2 separate regions of the Homo sapiens genome follow, and region 2 is linked to region 1. The links come from fine-mapping of genetic effects on gene expression. A gene starts in region 1. The other region holds a variant in brackets. All regions are shown on one strand. Distances are between the middles of the regions.

Region 1 (4,265 bases):
GTGGTGGCGTGCACCTGTAATCCCAGTTACTTGGGAAGCTGAGGCAGGAGAATTGCTTGAACCTGGGAGACGGAGGTTGTAGTCAGCCAAGGCTGCACCCCTGCACTCCAGCCTGGACAACAGATCTAGACTCTGTCTCAAAAGAAAAAAAAAGAAAGGCCCACCACTAAATCAATTTGAGTTCAAAGATAAGTTAATCAGGAGAAAAATCAGACTAAACAGGTTAAGTAACTTTCTCAAAGTTATACAAAAAGCAAATACTGGTCTTCTGACTTTCAATTCACTGACCTCTGTCTGTAATATGCCTATTACTTTTACAAGTACTCTTCCATTTTTAATCAAAATCTTATTTCAAGGGACAAGAAATTACGTTAAGTGACAACAGAGGTATTTTTCAGTGAATGCTGACAGCTGTGAAAGTCTTAATCTTTCTTCCCCAATACCCTCCTATCATGAACAGCACATGACCACTCTTGCAACAGCAGGACTGAAGTTTTTCTTCCAAGTGGTATTGTTGCAACTCTCTGGGGTACTCTCCTTTATCATCTCCCTCCCTTTAAAAAAATACTGCCAATCCTTTCCTCCAACAACTCACAAAATAAGAGTTTTTCAAATCATTTTATCTTTAATAATCTTGTAGTAATTTAAAATATGAGAAAAAAAAGTCAAATGTGTTCCCTTTATGGGTGATGCCACCATGATTGCCTCACACAAGCATAATCAATCGCCACGAGAGACTGGATGCCAAAGAGTATGGCTGGCAAAAAGGCATCAGGGCTCACAGTCCGAAGAGTTTGGTTACGGAGTCTCCGAGGGGTAACAGGTGGCAGAAAAGACATCAGTTTAAGGGACCCTCAGAGGACAGGGCGCGGTTGCTGGGTCATGAGCACCTTGAAGCGTTTCTTGATGGTGATTCGGTGTCGAGAGTATTTGTCATCTGGGGAGAACCGAGCAGGATGGGCTGAGCAGGTCTGTTGTCCCATCGGGTCAAATTTCTGCTCCAGGAACACAGAATGTATGTCAGTACAGGAGTGATGAAATGGGGTGGGGCCAGCGCGAAAAAGGGCAAACATGAAAATAGAAGATGCAATGGTCAACTCAAAAAGTTGTACAAATAAATAGAGAAATATAAAATTTAAAAAGGCCGAGCGCGGTGGCTCACGCCTGTAATCCTGGCACTTTGGGAGGTCGAGGCGGGAGGATGGTTTGAGACCAGCCTGGGCAATATGGCGAAACCTCGTCTCTACAACAAACAAACAAACAAAACCAACCAACCAAACAAAAAACCCCAAAACCAAAAATTAGCCGGGTATGGTGGCGCACGCCTGTAGTCCCAACTACTCGGGAGGCTGAGGCAGAAGGATTGTTTGAGCCCAGGAGGCGGAGGTTGCAGTGAGCCGAGACCGCACCACCGCACTACAGCCTAGGCAACAAAGCGAGTCCCTGTCTTTAAAAAAAAAAAAAAAAAAAAAAAGGAAAAGTGAGTGCAATGGCGCTATCCCGGCTCACTGCAACCTCTGCCTCCCGGGTTTAAGCGATTCTCCTGTCTCAGCCTCCCGAGTAGCTGGGATAACAGGCGCACACCGCCATGCCCGGCTAATTTTTTGTATTTTAGTAGAAACGGAGTTTCACAGTGTTGCCCAGAATGGTCGCGAACTCCTGAGCTAAGGCAATCCACCCGCCTCGGCCTCCCAAAGTGCTAGGATTACAGGCGGGAGCCACTGCGCCCCGCCAGAATTTTTTCTTTTAATTAAAAAATGAGTCGCGCGGTCCCGGTTCTTCCCCACCTCGGTTCTGGACTTTCTGGTTCCCCGCACCCAGCTAGGTAACTCCACGTATGACCTCACCCACTCCTCCCATCTACATTTCTCGCCATGCCTATTTACACCCTGTTTTCTCTCCTCACCTTCAGCGTATAGACTCGATCTCCCTGCTCGTTGAGGTAATACTGGAGAAACATGATCGCTTATAAGCCAGCGGTCCCAATTCGGTCCACCGCTCAGTCTGCAGTGGTCCGCCCGACCGCGTCACGTGTTCGTCAATTTCCTTCCTGCATAACCGGAAGTCTCTCTCTCCTGGCACTCCGGAAAATGTAGTCAATTTTTGCCTTGTTTTCAGCTAGCCAGAAGGGGGCGCACGAGAGCAGGGCTTGGCTTGGGGCCCTACTTGCAACTTTGCAGGCTAAAACACGTGGAGTGTCCCTACTGTGTGCTAGGTACACGGCGTTAGAGGGGGGTAGGGATGGATGTGGATAGAATATTGACGTATAGAAGCCTGTCTTTGTCTCAAGATACACACCCATTTCAGGAGCAGTGAGTTTTCAATGCCTGAAGAAACAAGGGCTCCAGGATTCAGAGCCCCTTTACCCTAGGGAAGAAAGAAGAGGTTTTCTTCCCTCCCCTCTTTTACATCCAGTTCCCCTGCTCCATTTCAAAGCGTTGGCGGTAAAGAATGCATGTTGAGTATCAATATTCCGTAAAGCGAAAGAGCGTAAAGTTATTTTATGAAACTGGTGAAGCATGTTTCAGCGGTCGAACCAAGATTTAAAGTTAGGTCCCTACCGCAAATTCAGCGCTCTTTCTTATGGTGGTGAGTAGCTAATAATAACGTAATAAAGTGCACCTTCTAGGAGTTTTTACAATTTTTAAAAGAATATAGAAGTTCTCCTTATAAGACTCTCGTTTAAAGAAATGAAAATGAGAACCAAAATATCATTACAAAGATCATCGTTACGCCATTATTTACAATGACAAAAGCATTGGAATATATATTAACTGTGTAACCAGAAAAACCTGCACTTTTTTTTTTTTTTTTTTAAGAATATGGTTTGGCGGGGCGCGGTGGCTCACGCCTGTAATCCCAACACTGGGAGGCTGAGGCAGGCAGATCACAGGTCAAGGGTTCGAGACCAGCCTGGCCAATCTGGCGAAACCCCGTCTCTACTAAAAATACAGAAAAATTAGCCGGGCGTGGTGGTGGGCGCCTGTAGTCCCAGCTACTTCAGAGGCTGAGGCAGGAGAATCATTTGAGCCGGGGAGGCAGAGGTTGCAGCGAGCTGAGATAGCACCACTGCACTCCAGCCTGGGTCCGTCTTAAAGAAAAAAAAATATGGTTTGTGGCTGGGCGCGGTGGCTCACGCCTGTAATCCCAGCACTTTGGGAGGCTGAGACGGGTGGATCACAAGGTCAGGAGTTCGAGACCAGCCTGGCCAATATGGTGAAACCCCCAAAAATACAAAAATTAGCGGGGCGTGGTGGCGGGCACCTGTAGTCCCAGCTACTCGGGAGGCTGAGGCAGGAGAATCACTTGAACCCAGGAGGCGGAGGTTGCAGTGAGCCAAGATCACGCCACTGCACTCCAGCCTGGGCGACAGAGCGAGATCCTGTCTCAAAAAAAAAAAAAAAAAAAAAAGAATATGGTTTGTATTTACTTGTAGTTGCATAAAAAATCTCTGCAAGTATTCACAAGAAACAGATGATACTGGTTTCCTCTGGGATAGAGAACTTAGTTGCAGGAGAAAGGGGTAAGGGTTGGGAGGCAGACTTATTGCTATGTATTTTATTACGCAGTTTGATTTTTGAACCTTGCTAATGTATTTATTACCTGTTAAAAATTTTTTAAAGGCCGGGCACGGTGGCTCACGCCTAGTAATCCCAGCACTTTGGGAGGCTGAGGCGGGCGGATCATGAGGTCAGGAGATCGAGACTATCCTGGCTAACACAGTGAAACCCCGTCTCTACTAAAAATACAAAAAATTAGCCGGGCATGGTGGTGGGTGCCTGTAGTCCCAGCTACTCAGGAGGGTGAGGCAGGACAATGGCGTGAACCCGGAAGGCGGAGCTTGCAGTGAGCAGAGATCACGCCACTGCACTACAGCCTGGGTGACAGAGCGAGACTCTGTTTAAAAAAAAAAATTTAAATCTAAGTAGTTAATTTTGTTAGAAAGGAAAATGATGATTTTAGCCTTCAGGTCTTTAGAAAAGAGAAAAGATATCTCAGAGGAAGCAAGAAAGATGCCATGAACCCCAGGGAAGGCCTTTTGGGGGAAATCCACGTTTGGATGAAGCTGTGGCTGTAGAGGATGCTCTGGGAGTTACTGGCCTGAAATAGTCGCCAGGAACCTTAGCAGATAAATTTTATTTTTAAAGTTTAAACCAAAATAATTTAACAAAAAGAAGGACTTTCTACTCTTGAAATTTTAAACTGCATGGCAGCTTTTTTATTTAGTGAGGCTTTTCAGCAAAGGGTAAGGCGTCTGTGGAGTA
Region 2 (4,529 bases), 90 kb before region 1:
ACAGCCTATGTGTTTACCTGTAACAGAGGGAAAGAAGATTCCCACCAGAAGCGTGAAGGAGGTGGTGATGTCAACAAGAACATATTCATGGTTTAAGCTGCCTAAGACATCAGAAGATTTGGCTGAAGGCTTTTCGATGATCTCTCCCTTGGGTAGGTAATTACTCCAAAGATTCTCTGCAGTGGGAAAAATGGGAATTTAAGCAGCAGCAGTATGAAAAAAAAAAGATAATTAATTTTCTACCCAAACATTCAAAATCAGGCTCCTCATTTATACAGTTTCTAAAGGTGTGTTTGCTTCTACATGAGCACATGTATACACACACATTGCACAATAAAACACACATAAATAAAAACATAGTTTTTTTTTTGTTTGTTTGTTTTTTGAGACAGAGTTTTACTCTGTCACCAGGCTGGAGTGCAGTGGCACAATCTTGGCTCACTGCAAGCTCTGCCTCCCAGGTTCACGCCATTCTCCTGCCTCAGCATCCTGAGTAGCTGGGACTACAGGCGCCTGCCACCACGCCCAGCTAATTTTTTATATTTTTAGTAGAGACGAGGTTTCACCATGTTAGCCAGGATGGTCTCGATCTCCTGACCTCATGATCCTCCCACCTAGGCCTCCCAAAGTGCTAGGATTACAGGCATAACCCACGGCGCCCAGCTAAACATAATGTTCTTTCTTATCTAATTTAAATATAATTTGACAAAATGATTTGGTACATGCAAATATAGTTTAACTTTACTAATGCAAATTAGTAAAAGTTAAACAGACTAAAACTAAATGCCCCACAAATCCCATTATTATTTGTCATCAGTGCTGTTTCTAACACCTTAATGTAAACTTACTTATGTGCAAAGAAATTTATAGACCAAACATTTATAATAGAAGACACTTAAGGAATGTTTCAGGAATTTAGCTAAGTTAGGAAGATACATGTGGATGTGGACATTAAAACAGGTCTATTCTGTCAGTGCAGGAAGAACATTGGCAATTTTACAAGAATACACGGAATATTTTACCGTAAGGTTAGAAAGTGATTTGCTCAACTCTGCTCTGAAATGGAGGTGAATTTTAGCAGACATCACTCTGTAAAGGAGTACTGAATAAGGACAGCTTTACTAATGGAAAAGCAGAAATATGGTGAATTAAGAGCTGTGTGGTGTGCTTAAGAAGGGAATTAGCACCATGGCAGTGAATCTTTATGGACAGTAGAGGAATCTAAGATGACAAGGCCTATTTTCCCCAGAAAATAGGAAAAAACTTGTCCAATAACTCCCTAACTTACCTGTAATTATACCACTAGCCAATCCAGGAATGCCCTGGATTGAAGTGACGTTATTGTGAACAAAGTATTCATCACAGGTGGCATTGAAAAATTGACTCGAGTTACAGAAGAATCCCCATAACTTTGATGGGACTGTCATGTTGTTAATTTCCTTGGTCTTAGAGCAAACGTCAATGTGTCTTGATGAAAGGGTGCGGTTACCCAGCATGCAGACCCTAAGTGAAAAGAAATAGGGAGAAAGATCAAGTAAGGAAAAAAAGTACATTAAAAAAAAAGGAAACAGGTTAGTAAAGGAAACAAGAACCCCATCTTTAAGAGCTTCTACTGTTATGGGTGGGAAAGGAACTAATGTTTATTTATTTATAATTTATTTTAACACTGTGAATGGTGACTTACATTTTCTGCCAATTTAATACTTACAGCAACCTCACAATGTATTAGAATTTCTATGTTGTGGATGGAGGCACTGAAGTTTAGGAAGACAGGGAGTTAATTGAAGGTTAGGGAAATACAGTTATCTGTCCAAGGTCATAGGTGGTGGCAGTGAAGGAAGTCAAATTGAAGAACTGTCTGAAGACATTATGCTGACTCATCTTCCAAAATTTTTGGCTAAAATTGTTAGGTCTAAAAGAATACTGAAGTCCTTTTGTTGTTCTTATAAAGTAAAAAGCACTCCTCTTTTTTTGGCCTAGAAAAGCCTAACATTCATAACAAACACCTTGAAAATGTTATGCTAAAGGTTGAATCTTCTGGCTACTGTTGCAAGGAAAACAGCTTGGTCAGAATTAAAAGGCAGATCCCTCTATGGCCTAAGAGAAAACTGTTTTTGAATTTAAGCCTAGACTCAGTGGGAGTGACGGTAAGGATAACATAAATATTAACCTGCTGGTTTTACTTTTTTCTTTAACCCAGAGACACAAATATAAACAAAGGAATAATACATCCATAGTTAAAATACCTCTCAGGTCCAACAAAGGGACTTCTAAAATTTGCAAAATGATTGAATACATTATTATGAACCATGTACCTATTACTCAGCTTCAACAACTCTCAACATTTCCCAGTCTTGTTTCATGTATTATTCTAGATTTTTTGTCTTGTTTTGCTGGAATATCTCAAAGAAAATACCATGCATTATGACCGTGTACTAATCAAAAAAGAGGAGAAGCCCCAAAGGTGAACCTGAGACAAAATGGAATTTCCCAAATTGAGATATAACCAGAATGTCACCTTTAGAAATTTTATGCCCCTAAAAAGGACCTTCAGCTGTATTACAGTCCCTAGATAAGCAGATTAAAAGTTTAAGATGGAATCTACTTCTGCCATCATGCAGCATAGCATAGAAGAAATACTGAATGGGGAGTCAGGAAATCACAGTTCATCTTCTTGCTCTGCCATTAATTAACTTTGAGGTAAGTCATTAAACCTACTGGAACTGTCTTTTTGTCTTGAAAAAT[CT/C]TTTTTTCTGTAATCTGGTTAAATCAACATAGAACCGATGAGTTTGATCCTCAGATAATCCAGATGACTCTTCAAGATAATTCTGTAACAAGACTACAAATAACACTGAGTGCCAGCTAGTCCCTATGCCACTAGTCAAAGGGAAAAGTGAGCCTGTGAGTCACAGATGTGCACAAATCCATTACTACTTCAAAAAACATACTTTAAAGTATTCGCACTAGGGAGTTGAAGGAGGTGGTGAATGATGAGAGAGTACTTAATGGGTACAAAGTACATTATTTGGGTAATGGATAAAAGCCCTGACCTAGGCTGGGCGCAGTGGCTCACGCCTGTAATCCCAGCACGTCGGGAGGCCAAGGTGGGCCTTATAAAGGTTGCTGGCAATAACTACACTGTCTGCAAAGCCCTTTATGAATAGTTCAAAATGTGTATAATAAAAAAAGATTATGTACAATTATCAGGGAGAAAAAAATCTAATATCTGAACCTAAATGATGGTTACAGCTACTAGTTCTATGCTTAGGACATAAGAAAGAGGATGAACGGGACATAGTTTGCTGGTAGGCTTCCTGCCTAGATGAGGAAGGAAGTCTAACTGGGCTTATCTGAGAGGGAAAATCTCAGAGAGACTCTATGAAATTCTGACTTAAAATTATCACACCACCAGATATTTTCAATTACTACCCAATAAGGATGGCTAGGCAGAGAGACAGACACGTACGGGAAGTGTGGAGGAGCAAAAGAAGACTTGATGGCTCCAGCATAGATGGCCAAGATGGACACAATGACACAGGCCAGGAAAAGTGAGGCAAACTTGTTCACATAGCGTACGCCGATAAATACCACTAATACCATAAGGACCAAGAAAGCTGTGCCGTAGACACGCATGTTATTTAGCATGGCTGCTGATTCCTTGAGTGCGTCATCACTGTGAAAGATGGCAGCTCGGGGGACGATATAGACCTGTTAGGTAAAAATAAAGGAGAAAATTAGGTTATTTCAAAATAATTAAGTAAAAAGGCTGTATTCGTTTGCATTTACTTTCACAAAAGAAAGCAAAGCTGAGAGAGAAAATGACTGGGGAATTAGCCTAGTTTCTAATAGGATCTGAAATGCCTTCAGAAATGGGATGTCATGGATTTTTTTTTTTTTTTTGGTCTACATGCTGTTCTGAATAACTACATTTCCAAATGGAAAGAAAGGAAAGGAACAAATTATTAATTTTATTCATAGGGTTATATAAAGTAATTATAATGATGATCTTTAACCCTGACTCTACTATCACTACTTTAAATAGTAAACAATATGTCTCAGTGAAGAGAGATATGAGAAGCATTTTATTTCATAGGGATGAAGATATCAAAAAAGATAAACTTTATTTTACTTTTTCCCCATTGGACTTGAACCTCTTGGATGAGGTGGCAGAGTGGTGGCAATCAGGTAGAAAGGAAGGGACAGGCAGGCAAACAGAATTTCAACCTTTCCACCTCATATTCATGTAAGAGGCCAACTGACGTTGGCAGTCAATCACCTGATTTATTCCCACAGCTGATCTCTCAGAAGCTTTCATAGCAAAGAATAAACCTAAATCAATATTTCTTCTATATTATAGACCACAATGAAGTCATTACTTACCAGAAAGATTTCAATGGCACCAAGGATGTACATGGCTGCTGCAAATGTGGTACCAAGATAAAAGCAGAGGCCAACAGCCCCACCAAACTCTGGGCCCAGTGCCCGGGAAATCATAAAGTATGAGCCCCCAGCTAAAAGACAAAACAGAA

Evidence for each region. PIP is the estimated chance that this variant, and not a neighbour inherited with it, causes the effect.
Region 2: its variant is the best candidate, but not a certain one, in a credible set for the expression of NOP10 in unexposed skin (GTEx, PIP 0.89).

Annotation. Positions count from the first base shown.
Region 1 is chr15:34,341,114-34,345,378 of GRCh38, forward strand. It overlaps NOP10 (NOP10 ribonucleoprotein), which reads right to left and starts at 2,023. Exons shown (of 2, transcript NM_018648.4): 1 at 1,907-2,023; 2 at 606-995. The coding sequence starts at 1,960. The coding sequence ends at 855. It overlaps NUTM1 (NUT midline carcinoma family member 1), which reads left to right and starts at 2,202. Exons shown (of 8, transcript NM_001284292.2): 1 at 2,202-2,589. The coding sequence starts at 2,584. RefSeq lists silencers at 1,766-1,875, 1,956-2,055.
Region 2 is chr15:34,250,882-34,255,410 of GRCh38, forward strand. It overlaps SLC12A6 (solute carrier family 12 member 6), which reads right to left. Exons shown (of 26, transcript NM_001365088.1): 8 at 4,381-4,511; 9 at 3,467-3,708; 10 at 1,289-1,503; 11 at 18-176. Among named protein-coding and RNA genes, the nearest start is that of EMC4, 28 kb to the left of the region's middle. The variant CT/C (reference allele first, on the strand shown) is at 2,746.